3 separate regions of the Homo sapiens genome follow, and regions 2 and 3 are each linked to region 1. Evidence: fine-mapped expression QTL. A gene starts in region 1. Each other region holds a variant in brackets. All regions are shown on one strand. Distances are from middle to middle.

What was found. PIP is the estimated chance that this variant, and not a neighbour inherited with it, causes the effect.
Region 2: its variant is fine-mapped to the expression of CD93 in whole blood (TOPMed, PIP above 0.99).
Region 3: its variant is fine-mapped to the expression of CD93 in whole blood (INTERVAL, PIP above 0.99).

What each region holds. Positions count from the first base shown.
Region 1 is chr20:23,082,774-23,089,186 of GRCh38, reverse strand. It overlaps CD93 (CD93 molecule), which reads left to right and starts at 2,863. Exons shown (of 2, transcript NM_012072.4): 1 at 2,863-4,928; 2 at 5,213-6,413. The coding sequence starts at 2,995. The coding sequence ends at 5,237. RefSeq lists enhancers at 1,033-1,172, 2,700-2,879.
Region 2 is chr20:23,137,545-23,143,957 of GRCh38, reverse strand. No RefSeq gene overlaps it. Among named protein-coding and RNA genes, the nearest start is that of LINC03125, 7.4 kb to the left of the region's middle. RefSeq lists enhancers at 552-846, 6,326-6,413. The variant G/A (reference allele first, on the strand shown) is at 3,286.
Region 3 is chr20:23,123,082-23,129,494 of GRCh38, reverse strand. LINC00656 (long intergenic non-protein coding RNA 656) reads left to right here. Exons shown (of 4, transcript NR_034149.1): 2 at 330-530; 3 at 766-866; 4 at 2,957-4,427. Among named protein-coding and RNA genes, the nearest start is that of LINC00656, 6.3 kb to the left of the region's middle. The variant A/G (reference allele first, on the strand shown) is at 3,253.

The DNA.
Region 1 (6,413 bases):
AGCCATGCAGTCCTTCTGCGTGCCCGGTGCCCTTCCCCCCACCTCCACCCAGCCCCGAGAACATCTGACCTGGACTCCACAGCCTGGAAACCTGCGGCCACCTGCTGAGGGCCCCCCCACCCACTGCTTGGGTCCACTGACCAGTCCCCTTCCACATGTAGGCCTCATGCCAGCCCTCAGTGTTTCCCCGTGGATTTCAAGACGAAGCCTCAAGCCTTCATTACTGGGGTTCACAGGGCTCCATCTTCCCCTGCATCCTCCCTCCCACTGCCTGGGCTTTGGTCTCCCTGCCCTTCACTCACTCTCTGTCCCCAGGGCTTCTGTACATGCTGTTCCCCCATCCCGACACCATTCCACATCTGAGCTGCTTCTCCTTTAGATTCCGGCTTGACTGCCTGTCTTCTCCAGAGGAGTCTCTCCTAATTGCCCATCCCCCAGTCAGGATGCCACCCCTGTATCAACCACGACCTCCCCGCTCCCCTGTGCTGCCTGCAATAAAGCCATCAGTGCCGTGACTTGTTCAAAGTTGTCCACTCTAACAGGACTCCAGGATCACAGAGGCAGGGATCCCCTCCTGGAATCCAGTGCCTCACTCAGTGCATAGCAGGGTCTTAATCAACAATTGTTAGATGGGTGGATGGACAAACAGATGGATGAATGAAGGGGCACAGGGAGGGTCTGGTGGCTTCTATGGAGAGTTCCCAAAATGTCTCAAATATCTTTGCTAAAATGCAAGGACTTAAGGCACATTCTTAGGAGGTATCCAGCTGGAGTCAGAGATGCCTCCTTGTCCCTTGGGGAGCCAGCGAGCTCCTAGCCCCCGGGACAACTCAACATCTCCATGGAGGCCACTGTGGTGGTCGCTGGTGCCGGGTCCACAGGCGTTCACTGTGTTCTCCACCGTGGCGCTTCTTCCCCTGGGGCCCTCACGGTCAGTGCAGAGCACCAAAGAGTTGCCGCTGTGTAGAGAATTCTTATAATTGTGCATTGCATCCATTTTGAATCTAATTTGGACCCTCTCCTACCAGAAGCAGGGTTTATTGCTCTTGACACGGTGTCTAGGGCTCCACCCCCTCCCAGTTCCTCAATGCGGCCAACCCAGATATCTGCCTTGTACACCCACCTCCTGGTGACCATTTCCCTGTGGGACAGGCAGATACAGCCCATTTGATGGTCTCAGTGACTCCACACCCCACAGGGACTTCCCAGACATGCCGCCATGCCCACCTCTCAGCCACAGGGACCCCACGGAGCCCGTGTCTGTTTGCTCTAAACCCACCAGTGAGAAGTCCCCTTGGGAAACCTGCTTGGGAAACGTCCTGGACCCCAATAAAGGCTTAGGACCCAGGTCTCTCTCTCTCCCTTCACCCCCCTCCAGGTGAGTGTTTGTGACCCAGACAGCTCCCCACTTTTTGCTGGCCCCGTGGGGTGCACTGCCCTCTCCCTGGGATCTGTAAGTGACACGGTGCTTGTGTTGCTTCCTGTGTCTTCTTGTGCTGCCTCCTGCATCTCCCCTGACCCACACCCCAACCCAACTCTCCTCCCATCAGGGATCTCTTAGGAAGTGGCTGTCTTGATAGGAATAAACTGGACATGGGTCAGACGAGAGCCACAAGGGTGTCTGTCCATAGAAACAAGTTTTATGTGAGAGAGACCCCTGGTCACTGGGCAGGGCTAGAATTTATAGTCAGTCTCTCAAAGTGAGAGATACAGCCTGCTACCAATGACAGGGGACTTGGAGAGCAGTGGAGCCTCTCCCTCAGCTGAGATGGTGCTGAGGTGTGGTCCCCTCAGGCCCCCAGAGTTTCCTGGCACTGGCTCCAGCAGCCCAGGGTCACCTTCTCAGCAAGTCATCATGGGTTGGCTTCCTCCTTGTCTGTTTCACTTCCCCTCCCACATAAACTAGTCTCCCCAAATCCTGTCTCAGGGTCCCCTCCTGGGGGATCCCAACCAATGAGCAAAGGTCTGTGGCTGCAGGAAAAGCACACTGTGAGTCCCTGGCTTTTGCCGAGTCGCGGTGTCGCGGGAGGGCCTGCCCGGGCTTCGATTCCCGCTCCCTGCCCAGATTTCCGGCCCTTGCTAGGAATCCTGAGCCGGGGGAAGTGAGCCTGCAAGCCCTGCGCCACGAGGCCGGACACATTTTCATTTTCTTTCTGATGCTTTTTGTGACCCTGACACCTCACAATGCAATATTTCCACTATGAAACCCCCAGAACTGCCAAATTTCACCCAATTTGGATTAACATTATCGAGGAGCTTGGCATTATGTTGAAAACCCAGACATTCCCACGACCCGTATCCTATTTAAAAAATGCCTGTCTATTTAAGGTTCACGATGGGAGGATAAAAGAAAAAAGGCTCCCAAAGTCAACAGAGAACATGAGCTAGGCAAAAGGAAAGTCCAGTTTGCTTCTAAAAAAGGCTGAAAATTATAACCATCCATGGCCTTGTGTCTTAAGTCTCAGAATTTTTTTTTTCTCTTTTGGTGGTTTGCAAACCAAAGTGGAATTTTATTATGGGTTACTAAGGGAGCTTCCTCGAGTTCCTAGCCCCCAAAGCCCCTGCTCACTCCATGGCATGCCTCCGAGGCTCCTCATGCCATGAGAAAGAGAATGGAGCCAAAATCAAGCCGGCAGTATCTCGGGGCTGTAACGTCTTCCCCCCGTCGCTGTTTCCACAGTGCTGAGCCAGGGACCCGGCAGAGCTGCCTGACTCCTTTTATGAACAACAGCACCGTGATGAAGGCAGCAGGAGTCAGAGAACTATTCATTGCAGGAAGCCCCAACATCCGGTGAGAAATAAGAAGTACAACAGTACAGGATGCGCCTTGGGTCAGGGGGACGTGGAAAGCCCTCAGCCTTTGTGTCCTTCTCTGCGCCGGAGTGGCTGCAGCTCACCCCTCAGCTCCCCTTGGGGCCCAGCTGGGAGCCGAGATAGAAGCTCCTGTCGCCGCTGGGCTTCTCGCCTCCCGCAGAGGGCCACACAGAGACCGGGATGGCCACCTCCATGGGCCTGCTGCTGCTGCTGCTGCTGCTCCTGACCCAGCCCGGGGCGGGGACGGGAGCTGACACGGAGGCGGTGGTCTGCGTGGGGACCGCCTGCTACACGGCCCACTCGGGCAAGCTGAGCGCTGCCGAGGCCCAGAACCACTGCAACCAGAACGGGGGCAACCTGGCCACTGTGAAGAGCAAGGAGGAGGCCCAGCACGTCCAGCGAGTACTGGCCCAGCTCCTGAGGCGGGAGGCAGCCCTGACGGCGAGGATGAGCAAGTTCTGGATTGGGCTCCAGCGAGAGAAGGGCAAGTGCCTGGACCCTAGTCTGCCGCTGAAGGGCTTCAGCTGGGTGGGCGGGGGGGAGGACACGCCTTACTCTAACTGGCACAAGGAGCTCCGGAACTCGTGCATCTCCAAGCGCTGTGTGTCTCTGCTGCTGGACCTGTCCCAGCCGCTCCTTCCCAGCCGCCTCCCCAAGTGGTCTGAGGGCCCCTGTGGGAGCCCAGGCTCCCCCGGAAGTAACATTGAGGGCTTCGTGTGCAAGTTCAGCTTCAAAGGCATGTGCCGGCCTCTGGCCCTGGGGGGCCCAGGTCAGGTGACCTACACCACCCCCTTCCAGACCACCAGTTCCTCCTTGGAGGCTGTGCCCTTTGCCTCTGCGGCCAATGTAGCCTGTGGGGAAGGTGACAAGGACGAGACTCAGAGTCATTATTTCCTGTGCAAGGAGAAGGCCCCCGATGTGTTCGACTGGGGCAGCTCGGGCCCCCTCTGTGTCAGCCCCAAGTATGGCTGCAACTTCAACAATGGGGGCTGCCACCAGGACTGCTTTGAAGGGGGGGATGGCTCCTTCCTCTGCGGCTGCCGACCAGGATTCCGGCTGCTGGATGACCTGGTGACCTGTGCCTCTCGAAACCCTTGCAGCTCCAGCCCATGTCGTGGGGGGGCCACGTGCGTCCTGGGACCCCATGGGAAAAACTACACGTGCCGCTGCCCCCAAGGGTACCAGCTGGACTCGAGTCAGCTGGACTGTGTGGACGTGGATGAATGCCAGGACTCCCCCTGTGCCCAGGAGTGTGTCAACACCCCTGGGGGCTTCCGCTGCGAATGCTGGGTTGGCTATGAGCCGGGCGGTCCTGGAGAGGGGGCCTGTCAGGATGTGGATGAGTGTGCTCTGGGTCGCTCGCCTTGCGCCCAGGGCTGCACCAACACAGATGGCTCATTTCACTGCTCCTGTGAGGAGGGCTACGTCCTGGCCGGGGAGGACGGGACTCAGTGCCAGGACGTGGATGAGTGTGTGGGCCCGGGGGGCCCCCTCTGCGACAGCTTGTGCTTCAACACACAAGGGTCCTTCCACTGTGGCTGCCTGCCAGGCTGGGTGCTGGCCCCAAATGGGGTCTCTTGCACCATGGGGCCTGTGTCTCTGGGACCACCATCTGGGCCCCCCGATGAGGAGGACAAAGGAGAGAAAGAAGGGAGCACCGTGCCCCGTGCTGCAACAGCCAGTCCCACAAGGGGCCCCGAGGGCACCCCCAAGGCTACACCCACCACAAGTAGACCTTCGCTGTCATCTGACGCCCCCATCACATCTGCCCCACTCAAGATGCTGGCCCCCAGTGGGTCCCCAGGCGTCTGGAGGGAGCCCAGCATCCATCACGCCACAGCTGCCTCTGGCCCCCAGGAGCCTGCAGGTGGGGACTCCTCCGTGGCCACACAAAACAACGATGGCACTGACGGGCAAAAGCTGCTTTTATTCTACATCCTAGGCACCGTGGTGGCCATCCTACTCCTGCTGGCCCTGGCTCTGGGGCTACTGGTCTATCGCAAGCGGAGAGCGAAGAGGGAGGAGAAGAAGGAGAAGAAGCCCCAGAATGCGGCAGACAGTTACTCCTGGGTTCCAGAGCGAGCTGAGAGCAGGGCCATGGAGAACCAGTACAGGTAAAGGGGGCCCTGAGTGACCGGGGGAGGGGATGGGCAGGCATGGGGGCACTGACTACAGTACAAAGAGGTGGCAGCAAGAGCAGGCCCAGGTTTCCTGTGGGCAGACACACCCTGGTCCTTGCAGCTGACCCCTCAACCTCCCCCCACGCCAGGCACTCGGGCCCCCTTAGAGCATACTGCCCATCTGCAGCACGGCCGCACGTGGGGCTCTCTCCCAAGGTGGGGACGTGCAGGCACAGAGGCGCCATGGCTTCCAACGCTGTCTGTTTTGTTTCCCATAGTCCGACACCTGGGACAGACTGCTGAAAGTGAGGTGGCCCTAGAGACACTAGAGTCACCAGCCACCATCCTCAGAGCTTTGAACTCCCCATTCCAAAGGGGCACCCACATTTTTTTGAAAGACTGGACTGGAATCTTAGCAAACAATTGTAAGTCTCCTCCTTAAAGGCCCCTTGGAACATGCAGGTATTTTCTACGGGTGTTTGATGTTCCTGAAGTGGAAGCTGTGTGTTGGCGTGCCACGGTGGGGATTTCGTGACTCTATAATGATTGTTACTCCCCCTCCCTTTTCAAATTCCAATGTGACCAATTCCGGATCAGGGTGTGAGGAGGCCGGGGCTAAGGGGCTCCCCTGAATATCTTCTCTGCTCACTTCCACCATCTAAGAGGAAAAGGTGAGTTGCTCATGCTGATTAGGATTGAAATGATTTGTTTCTCTTCCTAGGATGAAAACTAAATCAATTAATTATTCAATTAGGTAAGAAGATCTGGTTTTTTGGTCAAAGGGAACATGTTCGGACTGGAAACATTTCTTTACATTTGCATTCCTCCATTTCGCCAGCACAAGTCTTGCTAAATGTGATACTGTTGACATCCTCCAGAATGGCCAGAAGTGCAATTAACCTCTTAGGTGGCAAGGAGGCAGGAAGTGCCTCTTTAGTTCTTACATTTCTAATAGCCTTGGGTTTATTTGCAAAGGAAGCTTGAAAAATATGAGAAAAGTTGCTTGAAGTGCATTACAGGTGTTTGTGAAGTCACATAATCTACGGGGCTAGGGCGAGAGAGGCCAGGGATTTGTTCACAGATACTTGAATTAATTCATCCAAATGTACTGAGGTTACCACACACTTGACTACGGATGTGATCAACACTAACAAGGAAACAAATTCAAGGACAACCTGTCTTTGAGCCAGGGCAGGCCTCAGACACCCTGCCTGTGGCCCCGCCTCCACTTCATCCTGCCCGGAATGCCAGTGCTCCGAGCTCAGACAGAGGAAGCCCTGCAGAAAGTTCCATCAGGCTGTTTCCTAAAGGATGTGTGAACGGGAGATGATGCACTGTGTTTTGAAAGTTGTCATTTTAAAGCATTTTAGCACAGTTCATAGTCCACAGTTGATGCAGCATCCTGAGATTTTAAATCCTGAAGTGTGGGTGGCGCACACACCAAGTAGGGAGCTAGTCAGGCAGTTTGCTTAAGGAACT
Region 2 (6,413 bases), 55 kb before region 1:
CACACACACACACACACACACACACACACACAGGTGCACAATATATGCATACACACACAAATACACATACACAAATACCTGCACACATAAATACCTACACACACAAATAAACACATGCATACACACACATATTATATCTATCTAGACATTTGTATTCCTGCCTTCTTTCTTTCTTCCCTCCTCACCTCACTCTCCCCCTCTTTTTCTTCCTTCTTTCCTTGGAAATAGAAATTTCTCCAGCATCACTAGCTGCTAAGAAACCAAGAGCTTCTAGATTTTTGTTGCCTACCTGTCCTTTGGTTTGGATGGAATTATCCTATCCCCATAAATCATGTGCTTTCTATACAAATTTACAACTTTGTACAAAATCTAAACTTGGTTCTACAACTCATGAAATAAAAGATGTTAGGAGATTGTTTTGTTGTTGTTTTACCAGATAATAGAATCCCAAAGACAAGTGAAACTTTCAGTGATTCAAAATAGTTTTATTGCAAACTTATTATTTTAAGGATTCCCACAAAATGTGATGAATTTCTAGAATTCTCTCCCTTCTGAATGTCTCTTTTCTCTGGCTTCCTGTGTCCTTCATAAAAAATAACTACACAATCCCTAACACTAGCTGACAGACCCGTGTCACCACTCGCTGGATTTGAAGGTCAGCGCAGTCTCCTTTAACACGGCAGGAAGTGGCTTGCTTTCCATGGGGCTGAGTCATCTGAGGTTTCCCTAGTGCTCAGCACAGAGATGACTGCTTTTCCTGCTTTGGGATTATGAAAATCATACTTATGAAAACAGGAGTGTTAGCATTTTGGAAAAGAGCTTCCCTTTTAAACGATACATGTGTAGATATAAAATTCAAACAATGTAGAAAAATACAGGCAAGAAAGAATATTAGACAGCCCATCACCCAGAAAGGCCTGATATTTAACAGGCGACCGAAATGTGGGGCTCATAACCCATGCATTCAAGACTCTAAAGACCCTGATTACCTTCTTACCTTCATGGTGGTCACATTTTATTGGCTCAATTTGCTACCAGAAATCATCAAAAATCACCACTGCACAGAATGCTTAGCTCACGTGGACTTCGCCACCTACTGAAGTGTAAGCTATAGTACAGGAAATATTATGTTATGAGAAGAGAAGAGAATGCCCTGGCACCCTGTTGTCTAGCAAATGTATCTAGGTCCCCCTCTGCACTGAGTTGGGCTGGTGGCAGGAGTGGGCATTCACGGCACCACTAGGCCTCACTCCGTGCACCTGACCTGGATCGAGCCAGCATTTCCAGGAAAGCCGCCTGCTGTACATCCTTCAGCCTGGGGCTGGGGGCTTCCCTGGCCGGGTTGGACCATAGCCCATGCTGGACCAGAGCCTATCCAGGGGCACTGCTCTGGTATGTTTCCTGGACTGCTGTCGGCCGGCCTAAGACCTCTCCTCAAGGATCCATGCAGGCCTGGCCCACCCACTCTCTCTGTGACCAGATACTACACAGGCTGTGATTTGACAAACTTAGTTCCTTCTGCAACGTTTGCTACTTCCTCTAAGTTCTGTCAGAGGCCTTCTTTTGTGGTTGATTAGTCAAACCTACCCCATTACCCTCGACATGTTGGCCACACCTAGTGCTCAAAGGTGAGCTCCTGAGGCCTTCCCAAACCACCGTACCCAAAACATCAGCCTCTGCCCTTGAGCATCTGGCTTTTTGCATTTTTGTTCATAGCATTTACCTACTCGATAGTATACTTGTGTTTAATTTCATGTTGGCTGCCACCCCACTAGAAGGCAAGCCCTGTGCGGGGGAGGACTTGGTCCGGTTTGTTCATCCCTATATCTCCAGCACATCAAAGTGGCCCTTTGATAAATGCACGTTGAATGAATGCACGCATGAATGAATACACTGCTCCAGACAGGGTTCTCCCACTTTGTTTCCAGCTCTTGGGAGCTGCGTGCAGAATCCATTGGCTTTGATGAAAGGAGAATCCAAGCCTTGGCAGATGTCCGAGCTGACCAAGGCCGTGCAAATGCTTTCATCATGTGTCCCGTCTCAAAGGGTTTTAACAGGAGGTACCGGGAAGTGGGAAAAACTGGAGTTGTGAGATGGTGGGCAGGAGGCTGGAGGAATGGCCCCATCCCAACACTGCCTAATCTCTGCTTGCTCAGCCCTCCACCTCCCCTCAGATCACACTCTTCAGTGTCCCCCTGAAAGCAGAGTCACTATCTCTATGTCAGGGTCCCCTGCCTGCACCTGCTGCTGCTCTTTGGAGCTTTGACGTTTTGTCACTTATCTAGGTGTCTGTTCTCAAAACACTGTGAGGCCCAAGAGGCCAGAGGCACCTGTCATTTGTTTTTCTAAGCCTAATGCCCAGGACACAGATGCCCAGGAGACAGATGCTGGGCATTAGGCTTACAAAGTGAACAGCTACAGATACACGCTGTCCCCAGAGATGATGGCACTGATGCCCAGGAGGCTGGACAAAGGACAGAGAGGGTCTCTTGAGGACCTCTACTCCTGGTGAGGACTTCGCAGCCTGTGCCTTACTTATGGAAGCACAGCCCTCGCAAAGAGCTGGGCTTTGGTTTACTGTAGTGTTCCTGGATTCCTCCCTTCAGAGACTCTGAGGGCCATGGGGACAGCTCCAAGACCAAGCTGCGGTCAAAGCCACCAGGACTGGGTGTCAAGTGGTCAGCAGAGGGACATACCCAGGACCGCTGGCTGCAGCCATGTCCACAATGCTTGACACTCAGCTTAGGCCGACTCAGAGTGGGGTGTGGCTGACAGCCCCCAAAGTCACTCTGGTGCGGGGAGGGAAGCTGGGGTAGCACTGCGTCCTGGAAAACCTGACCCTGAGGACCTCTCCCTTGCTTAGCTAAGAACATTAGGTCACTCTGTTTGCATCATAATGTCTCATGCTTCCCTGTTTAACAATTTTTTAAAATACATTTTTGAATGTTTTCCTTTCAAGTAATCTTGAAAGCCCTGGTTATAAGCTGAATACCTCGGACATGCCATACTTGTTCCTAGGGTCCAAAAGGAATCCATTCAAATTGATAAAATCAATTAATATTTAAAGAACAGATGTAAACACCAGAAGAATTTTTAAAAATAACATAACTAAGGTCAGGTGATGGAGGGAAATAGAAAAAGCACAGTGCTTCGAAAATTCTGTCTAAATCACGGGTACATTATCTCATCAAAGGATAGAGTTACAGGAGTAACAACAAAATGAGCTAGAAATGGAACTCACAATGTCCAAATAAGCAGGAGGAACACACACATCCAAAACAACAC[G/A]CAGAATGTAAGCCAGACACAAAGAGAGAAAGCTTGTGCAAAACATGAAGACAAAACTGAGATTGAGGAGCTCCAGACTTTGTCCAGGATGGACATTTTAATATAGCATTTAAATATATATGGTATAACATAGCATTTAAGTATAATGCTATTTCACCTAAAGGTGAAATCATAAATTTACTGGAAGGAAATGTAGGAGAATTAGAAAAATAAATAATTTTGGGGTAAAGAAGAGAAGTATGAATAAGGGACAAGAAATAAAAACCAAAAAATTAATGCATTAACTGCATATAAAATAGAAATAATCTACATATTAATAAAACAAAACTTAAAAAAATTAAAACATGATACTGTGAAATATATTTGTATCATATATCAAATTCAAAGGGGTTAGTTTTTTTATTTCAAGTTATTATTATTAATCCATGATTAAAAAATCAACAACTCCACAGCAAATGGACAAGGGATAGAGACAGAAACAGAAAAATAACTGCCTCTTTATTTATTTATTTATTTATTTATTTATTTATTTTTATTATTATACTTTAAGTTTTAGGGTACATGTGCACATTGTGCAGGTTAGTTACATATGTATACATGTGCCATGCTGGTGCACTGCACCCACTAACTCGTCATCTAGCATTAGGTATATCTCCCAATGCTATCCCTCCCCCCTCCCCCCACACCACCACAGTCCCCAGAGTGTGATATTCCCCTTCCTGTGTCCATGTGATCTCATTGTTCAAATAACTGCCTCTTATACACAGGGAAAGATGAGAAAAACGCACTCAAAACTGCAGTGAGTTGCTCCTGCTTCACCCGGCAGGTTGGGACCCACCAGGGAGTGTGCCCACACCATGAAGTGAGGATGAGCAGTGTGAACCAGCACCACCTTCACAGAGGGTGATTGGCAGCATCACACAAAGTAAAGAATGCCAACACCACGTGCCTGACGCGTCCCCATGTAAGGACGTTTCCTGTACGTGTCCATACATGCATGTAGGCTCAGATGTTTATCATAGCAAACCCTTTATCCAATGACTGGGGCCAGAGCTGAATAAATCCTACACACACACAAAGCTAACCTCACTCCAAAGCGTTAACAGAACAAGGCAACCCTCTACTCTTGCTCAGAGAGAGAAACTAAGTGTAGAGCTGTGTATATAATATACTATGGTCTCTGTAAAAGCCACAGAGAAAACACCAGTCTGTGCCTCTTTGTGATTAGGTAAGAAACTAGCAATCATCTTTGTAGCTGAGAAGTGCTTTCTAAATTCTAAAATGCCACTTAATCAACCCCTTGTTAAAGGAATTTTTCAGCAGGTAGGGTCTAACATGATCATACACTCAATAGTTTTATTTTCTAGGTCACTTTCAATTTCAAATATCTTGTCTGATGTTAATGTTCATATATTCATCGTTGACTAAACATGTGTCTTAGTTTCTGTGTCTAAGGCCAACAGAAAGAGAATGGGTCCATAAGAGTCAAGGGCCGGAATTTCTTTTCTTGAGAAGCTGCCCTTGCTGGCTTATGCCAGAGCATGTTTTTTGGCCTCCCTCACAGGCCTCACAGTTCTTTGCCTTTCCTCTGCTTATCTTGACTTACATTTCCATATCGTTGCCCTGAAAAAGGGTAGGTAACTTTGACTTCATGCATCTGAAAATCCTTGATCAGACAGCTTTTGGAGAATGAACAATATTTCAGGAGTCAGGCCTTTTTCCCATGCCTTGTCATTCTAGCAGCCCGGCTTCCCTCCTTACCCAGGGGACAGCACAGTGCTTCTGTTTCAGCTGGGTGGTCCCAGAGAGCTTGAGAAGCCCTGCAAATGGATGGGCAAATTGGAGACCTGAGGTAAGCCAGGTGAGGCTGGTGTGTCTGCAACAGCCAGATGCCTTCAGTTGATTGCGGGGGCTGCATGCAATTTTTGTAATGTGAATTTTGCAAGCCTGTTCTGACATTTTCAACATTGATTTTGCAAACCTACCTCTCTGGATTTCTAAGGACTCTTTGGGAATTATTATTATTTGGTCAGATCATTAAAAATGCAAGGGGAGGGTGCTCTAACCAGTCCAACTCGGTGGCAGATGATTTTTTTGGCTACTCTGGAAAGAAATATTAATCTGAGAAACCAAACTCAACATCAGATGCAGGCAAGACAAAAGGGATAAGCAATGAAAAAGGACAGAAAGCCTTCCCCCTCCTCCAGCACCTGTCCTGCCAGGAGCTGTCCCTGGGGATAAAGGGCTTACCATGAATTTCCTCTGCCCTCTTATTAGACCATTGTACAGCCTCATGAAGCAAGTGTTACCCAAAGGACCACCAGGATGGCTGGGTAGTCGAAGAGAGGGCTTTAATGTCAACATCAGTTTGCAAACCAAACTGATGGAGAGAGTTTCCAGCGTGAATCAAAAGTGCTCTCTCTGAAGAACAAATAGAAGGTCAGAGGTTTTATAGAAAGAAGAAATGTTATGCATTGCTCTTTGAGAAATTTCACCAGCACTAGTAAGGTTCTGAGTAGCTGGCAAGCTCTGATTGGGAAGTGACAGCCATGGGCAAAGCTAGTCTGAGAGTTGCAGCAGGTCATTTCAGGAGTCTTAGATAAAACTGGTTTCAGGCTACTGCAGGCAGTTTCAGCTGCTAGGCCTACAGATAATTACATTTTTGGAGCAATGTATTGTGCTCTGGGTGCTATCCCCACTGGATTCTTGACTGTGTTTTAGTTGGGTGTGACAAGAATGGCCCAATCTGTATGATAAGTTTTCACAAAAGGAAAACTTTTCTTGCAAAAAACAAAGCGAAGATAGACTCAGCAGAGCCTTTCCTCAGCCTTCCTGTAGGACAAATTCTTTCCCCAGTGGGAAAGAATTTACAGGACCTGGGATCTGAATGCTTCTGCCTGGCCTTCTAGTCTCAACCTGGGCTTCAGCCCTCAAACCACCTTCCCCCTTAGGCTTCTTGCGTTCCTTCATTTATCCTGTCTTCACCCCCTGCCCCATTAGCCTCCTTCTCTCGGAGACCGTGGGTGGAGTCTTTCCCACTCCCAAAGTCTACCTGGGTGTTTCTTGGGCTCTTTGCCAGGCTGAGGCCCAGGTGCATCCCCAACACCTTCATGTTCCTTGGTTTTGCC
Region 3 (6,413 bases), 40 kb before region 1:
TTACAGCCTGTGTAGTGTTTTAGGCCAACTCTGGTTTGAGAACTATTTTCTTCTGACCTCCATGTCTTATCAAAGTAGATAAGAAAAATATTCCATGCGAGACATCAGCATTAGGCAAAGAATGAGAATGGAGTGAGGACACCGTGAGCAGCTGGGTGGCCCCTCTGCAGCCAGGGATGGTGCCACTGAGTCTTCTTGTGGTGCTGCATTCCCTTTATTGGAGGGTAACTGGGGAGAAGGCATGTCTCGGGGCCTCCGAGAAGGACTGTGCCCTGGGAGGCCTTCCCTCCCTCCATTTCTCTATCCTCTGCCTTGTCCCCACTTTTCAGGTTATTTCTGCCCTTCACGGTCCCACTCAAGTCCTGCCTCCCTCAGGGAGACCTCCCAGACCTCACCAAGCCGTGGGCACGTGGACCAGAAGCCGTGGACCCCAGAGGCTCATTTAGGGATCTGCTTTCTGAACCCAGGTCCTAACATCTGCACTGCAGCGAGCATTTCTGGTGCCTCAAGTGAGTCACTCCAACTTCCAGGTCAGTGCCCGGCACACGAGGGGTGCTTTTATTAGAGGTATTAGGTGAGGCCTCCCTGCAGGCAGTCCACACCCTCAGCTCCCAGATTTCCACCAGGGTCACCCAGTGGGAAAGGGCAGCTGCCTCTGCATCCCCATGAGCCCAGCTCGCCCTCTCTAAGGGACAGGGACCACCAGCCTCACAGTGGTGGGTGGCAACACCTGGTCATTTTCTGTCATTCTCCTGTCATGATCAGCTCACTGAGAGGCGATGGAGCACTGAGTGCCAGCATCTTCCAGCACCAGAGGAGCTGACTCTGAATAGACAGCTCGGCAGCGGCCTCAGCACAGAGCAGGGGTAAGGGTGGGGCCCACCTGCACTTCCTGGCCGCCTGTTCCCTAAGTGCATATTGATTGAATAGCGCTGCCTCAGAACTAGGCTGCCTGAGTTTGAATTAGGCGCTGGTGTTAATTAGCTGTGTGATCTTGGGTAAGTGACTCAATATATCTGTGCAAGGGGGATAACCATATGGTCTTCCTTATGGGGTTCTCATGATGATTAGTTCATAATATAAAGTTACCCCCCCACCCCATGCAGAGATGAGGCGGAGGGGCTGCCACCAACCAGGATGACGGAGGAAAGGGGGAGATGCTGAGCAGGCTGAGGGTTTCGTGGCTGTCCCTGCTGCTGGCTTCACAGTCTTCTTCCCGCTGTGCCACTGCCCATGCCAAAACCACATTCACCATCTATCCATGCAGCAGGGTGACCTGCAGTGCATGGAACCCCTGGACCCCTCGGCCTCCCAGGGCCAGCCTGCCCCATCCCTCAGCCCGGTCACTGTTCCCAGGCTTTAGGCCCTGTAACTCTGGCCTGTCCAGCTCATTTCCAGCCTACAGACCTCTCTTGGGTCCCCAAACCCTTACTTAGGCCCCAGCCAAGGCAGAGCCTGGCTGTCTTGGACCCTGCCTCTCCCTGCCCAGTGTCCAATAATCCACAGCACTCCCTTCCACAGCCATGGGCCCACCCTTGACAAGGGCTATGTGCCCTGGAACCCGTGCCTCTCACCTTCACGCCAAACTCCTCCTTTTCCTAGACCCCTGATTCCCAGCGGGCCGAGGTCAAGCTGCCTTGCCTAGTTTCTGTCTCCTGTGGCCCCTCGATGCCAGCTCCTCCCTGGCCAATCCCCATTACCAAAGTCCCCCATTCTAACTTCCAGTGCCCAGGCCCCAGTCCAGGCATCTCCGGGTCCATGTACTAACTGCCATGCCCATGTGACCCGAGTACCAACCTCTGCCCACTCCACCTGGAGTTAAACCTCCTGGCTGTGCTTCGGCCAGGCCAAGGGCCCTGATGTGCTGTCCCCAGCCCTTAGTGGCCCACAGCCCCTGGGTTTCCCTGCGTTTTGTGCCCCCTGCTCACATCCTGCTCCGTGAGGCCTGCTGGCTCTGATCTCCAGCCCAGGCCTGGCCCCGCATCAGGGCCCCTTTTCTTCCCAGGCTCATGGCTCCCACTGGTCCCAACTCAGGAGTGAGATTCCTCAGAATCCTGTGGCCCAGACTCCTTTCTTCTCCCACTCAGGCAGCCCCCTCAGTCCTGACTCCTTGGGGTCCCCTTGGTCCCCACCTCTTCGCTTCCTTTGATGCCTCCTTGCCTCTCAGCTTAACCTCTTTACTTTGCTGCCCTCCAGGAATTCTTGATTGTCCCTGACCCCAGCTCAGTCCCCTCCCCGAACCCCACCAAGGCAACCCCCCAGCACTCCTGCCTGCCCTCCCGCATCAGCCCTGATCCTAGTGCCCAAATCACTCTAAGTCCCCTTGCCTTCTGCTATAGCTGTATCTGGTGTTCTAGAATCTTCTGGTCTCTAGTTTTTCTTCCCTCCAGCCTGGCCCCTCAGGTCCCTGCAAGGCAGGACCTGAGCTCCCTAGGCAGGGGTCCCCTCTGCATGTACTCCTGCCCCCTCATTTCTGAGCCCAGGCCCTCAGGCAGGCCCCTCCTGTTGGAACATCTCAGGTTCAGCCTGTGACCCTGGACCCCCAGCGTCTGCCAGGCCCACGGGAGCTCCAAGCTCTGGAGACAGATCCAGACTTCCCCCAGGTCCCCTTTCACCCCAAAGCCACATTGTTTCCATTTAGAGCAGTGGCTGTCAACAGGGTGACACTGGGTGACATCTGATAGGTTTTGGTTGTTGCTCAACACCCTACAGTGCCCAGGACAGTCCCTATCACAGGCAGTGGTTGGCCACAAATGCCCACAGTGGCGAGGTGGGGAGACCCTGGGTTTGAGTGACAGCCTAAACCCAAGGCCCCAGGCTCCCGGGGGTGGGGGCGGAAGGCCAGGAACCCCTCATGTCCTGAGTAAAGTTTACATGTGGTTAGGCTTTGCCAGTGCCGTCCAGTAGTACTTTTTGTGATGATGGACGAGTTCTGTATCTTCATTGTCCCGTACAGGAGCCACCAGCCACAGGCAGCCACTGAGCCCTTGGCATGTAACCCGGTAACCCATGCAACAGAAGACCTGAGCGTCCAGTGTTGCTAGCTTGAAGTAACTTCAGTGGTGTTCCCCAGCGTTTTTCTCATCCCCCTCCCTTCCCTTCCCCTACAGCTTTCTTCCTCTTTCCCCTCCTTCTGAGTCTTTCGTCCCCAGTCCTGGGAACCTTTTTTCTGACTTGGTGTTTTCTCCTGAATGCCTCCTTCCTGGCCCCCTAATCAGAAATGCAGAAGCCACCTGCCCCACACAGGGGGCC[A/G]CTTTCCCTGCATCTGGCACTCACCAGGACAGTCATAGAACTGGCCTTGGGTGCTTGGGGAGAGTGGAGAGGTCTGGGGGGCATCCACTGGCCTCAGCCTCAGAGCTTCTCATCAGTAACCCAGGAGGCAAAGGCCCAGCTCAAGATTAGCCCAGGCCACTGTATCTGTGCCAAGACCTACAGCTGTCCCTGCAGGGCGTGCATCTCTGCAGCCCAGGCTATCACAATGGTGTCCCTTTTGGTGGGGATGTGAGGCCTGCTGCTGCCTGGGAAGAAGCTGACAGGATTGTTGGTGCTGTGGGGAGAAGCTGGTGTAACTGAGACCCATGAGGGAGGCCCTTTGTGGGTCTGTGGCTGGGAGGAGCTCTGGGGAAGATGGGCCTTGAGAAATCCCAGCTTAGCACCTTTGACAGTTGCTCCACTGAGTCACCCTAGACTGCAATCTCACAGATGTTCTAACCACCCTCTCCCTGGGGAGCCCTTGGGGGTGCTGCAAGCCCAGTCCTCACTCACTGGCTTTGTGCTTCTCTTCCCGACTTCCTTTTTTTGCTCCTGTTGAGAAATGTGGGTCCAGGGCTGCGTGCTCCAGTGTGCGGAAGGAAGGGCAGCGTGCTCTTTGGACTGAGCTGGCTCAAGGGAAGCTGGGTCTGAGGGGAGACTGACCTCGACCCTTCTTAAATGAAACACCTTTTCCCTGCGTCTCAGTCACCGTTACCTGGCCTGATCACTGTGTGCCACACCCCATCACATCCATCCCCACAAGAATGCCAGGAGGAGGGGTCATTGGCCTTTTTGTCAGCACAAACCTCTGGAGGCCCAGCTCCCAAGACCCGCCAGGCACACCTGCCAGAGTGCCTTAACTTGGGATGTCTGCAAACCTCTGTCCATGGCCGAACCCACCCCACTGCCTGTTACTGTAAATAAAGGTCTATTAGCATGCCACCATGCCCCTCCTCCGATGCATACAGTGCCCAGCTCAGCACCTGGTGCAAGTAAGCACAATCTGGCTTCCAGCCATCACTGCTGTTGCTACTAACACAAATATTAGGCCCCTTCTAGAATGCAAAGATAACCCAGGGCTGCTCGTTCTGTGTCCAGATCACAGAGTTTTTCTTTTTATCCTTATCAACTTTATTGAGGGATAATTTACAGGCAATAAATCATATCCATTTAAAGTTATTGTCAAGCTTTTAAAGAATTAAAGTTCGTCTTCTTCAGAAGCTTACCGAGGACTACAGGCTGTGGCGTAGAGCCCTGGAGCAGCCTCCACTGAGGTTCTGTATTTCAGGTCACAGTTGACATATAGGTGGGAGGTCCAGTACGTGCAAAGTCACATGAAAGCTTGGGTGTCAGAGTGCATCAGGTTATGGATTCAATTACAGAGCAATAATCACTGACCCTGTCAGATGTTATCTTACGTGTAGGAAAAGGTAAGACCAGGGCCATTTATCTGCAAAGAATATAGTGACTCAGGCAAGAGTCCGGAGAGGGTGTGTGCTCCATCCTGTTTTGTCTTCAGAGCATCTTTCTGGGGAGCTGCACATCGTTATAGAGACAGGCACTTTGTGAAATTCTGCTGCCAAGCACAAATGAGCAAACGTGGTTTCCTATGTTTACTACTTTGTCTCACAAAGCGCACATTCACAGTGCATTATTAAGGGGCCCTGGCAGCACCGCCACAGTGTATCTCTGCTCCCTCTTAAAGTTCCCCGTGCCCCTTGGCAGACAGGCCCCTCTCACTCCTGGGCCCAGGCTACCATTGACCAGCTTTTTGCCACTAGAGGTTAATTTTCATTCTATGTGATTGGAATCATACAGATGTTCTTGTATCTGACTTATTTCACTCCACATAGTGATTCTGAGATTCAAATGTTGTGTGTATCAGTTGTTTGTTCCTTTTTATTCCTGAATGGGAGAGGGGATGTCAAGCTGCACAGTTTTATTCCTGGGCTACAGTGGAGATGGATGGTTCTACCGTCTCTCTGAAACACCATCTGCAGTTTCTTCAAAATCTACCTACACATCTTCCATCCCATCCTGAGGAGTCCCCGAGGGTTGAGAAATGCATGACCCCACACCTGGCTGACGTGTACAACTGGCGGAGTTAGTTTTTCCTGTTGACACTGGCCACGGGCGCCTCAGCATGCACAGCCCTGGCCTTGCTCCTCTAGGCATGCTGGGGGCTTGTCCACACGTGTGGTCTACGGATGGAGGAGAGTGGCCTCTGGCCCATGCGTGCCATGCACTGGACCTTCCCAGGGAATCAAGTTACATGATGTTTCCTTGAGGAGCTACATACAAAGTAAAAAACTGAAATCAAGAATATCAGTCATTTCTGAATATGCCAATTCGCCCATGGTGCAGTTTGTACAGCTTAATCACTGCAGAACAGTTTTGAGGATAAAATTAACCAAAAACCTAAGTAGACAAAATATTCAAATTTTTGGAATCTGTCACAAAAATCCACAGATGACTTATTTTCCATTGTAGCTTATAATGTCCAAAAGCCTTTCTAGTGACTTATAACTGATGGTGAGCTCCCACTCTGTGGCAGCTGTGGGACACTGGTCTAAGGACTACACCCTGATGCCTGGTGAGTTACAGAGGCCATGAGAAGATGTCAGTGAACCTGAAAGCCAGGGAGAGGCTGTGTTCCTGCCGGACTGTGGGGCTCCTTCGCTCCCCTGCTGTGGCCCTTGGTCAGGCCACTTTCCCTCTCTGGGTGTCAGTGGCTTCATCTACGAAGTGATAAAAAACTAATGCAAACCAGAGCAAAATGAGATAACACGGGGACCCCTAATGTCCCAGGGAGATGGTGAACTGAAGCACCGCGTGCGGTGAGTTGTTGCTGTCTCCACCCCTCAAGGAGACCGCAGCTTTGCAGACGTGTGGGTCCCATCATCGGCCCCATTCTACATTCCTCCCTGTGTCCCTGCCATCGCCAGGTGACTTTGCTGGGCCCTCCCACCGCCCTAACTCCCAATCCCAAGATCTTCAGTGAACGTGACGCGCACAGCAGAGGCCCAGAATGTATGTGTGCATGTGGTGACAGCTAAGCCTGCCTGGAGCAGAGCCCCAACCCTGCAGCAGCTCAAACAAGCTGAGATCAGCAAATGCACATCTGACTCTCAGACATGGGGGCAATAATAATAAATGCTGTT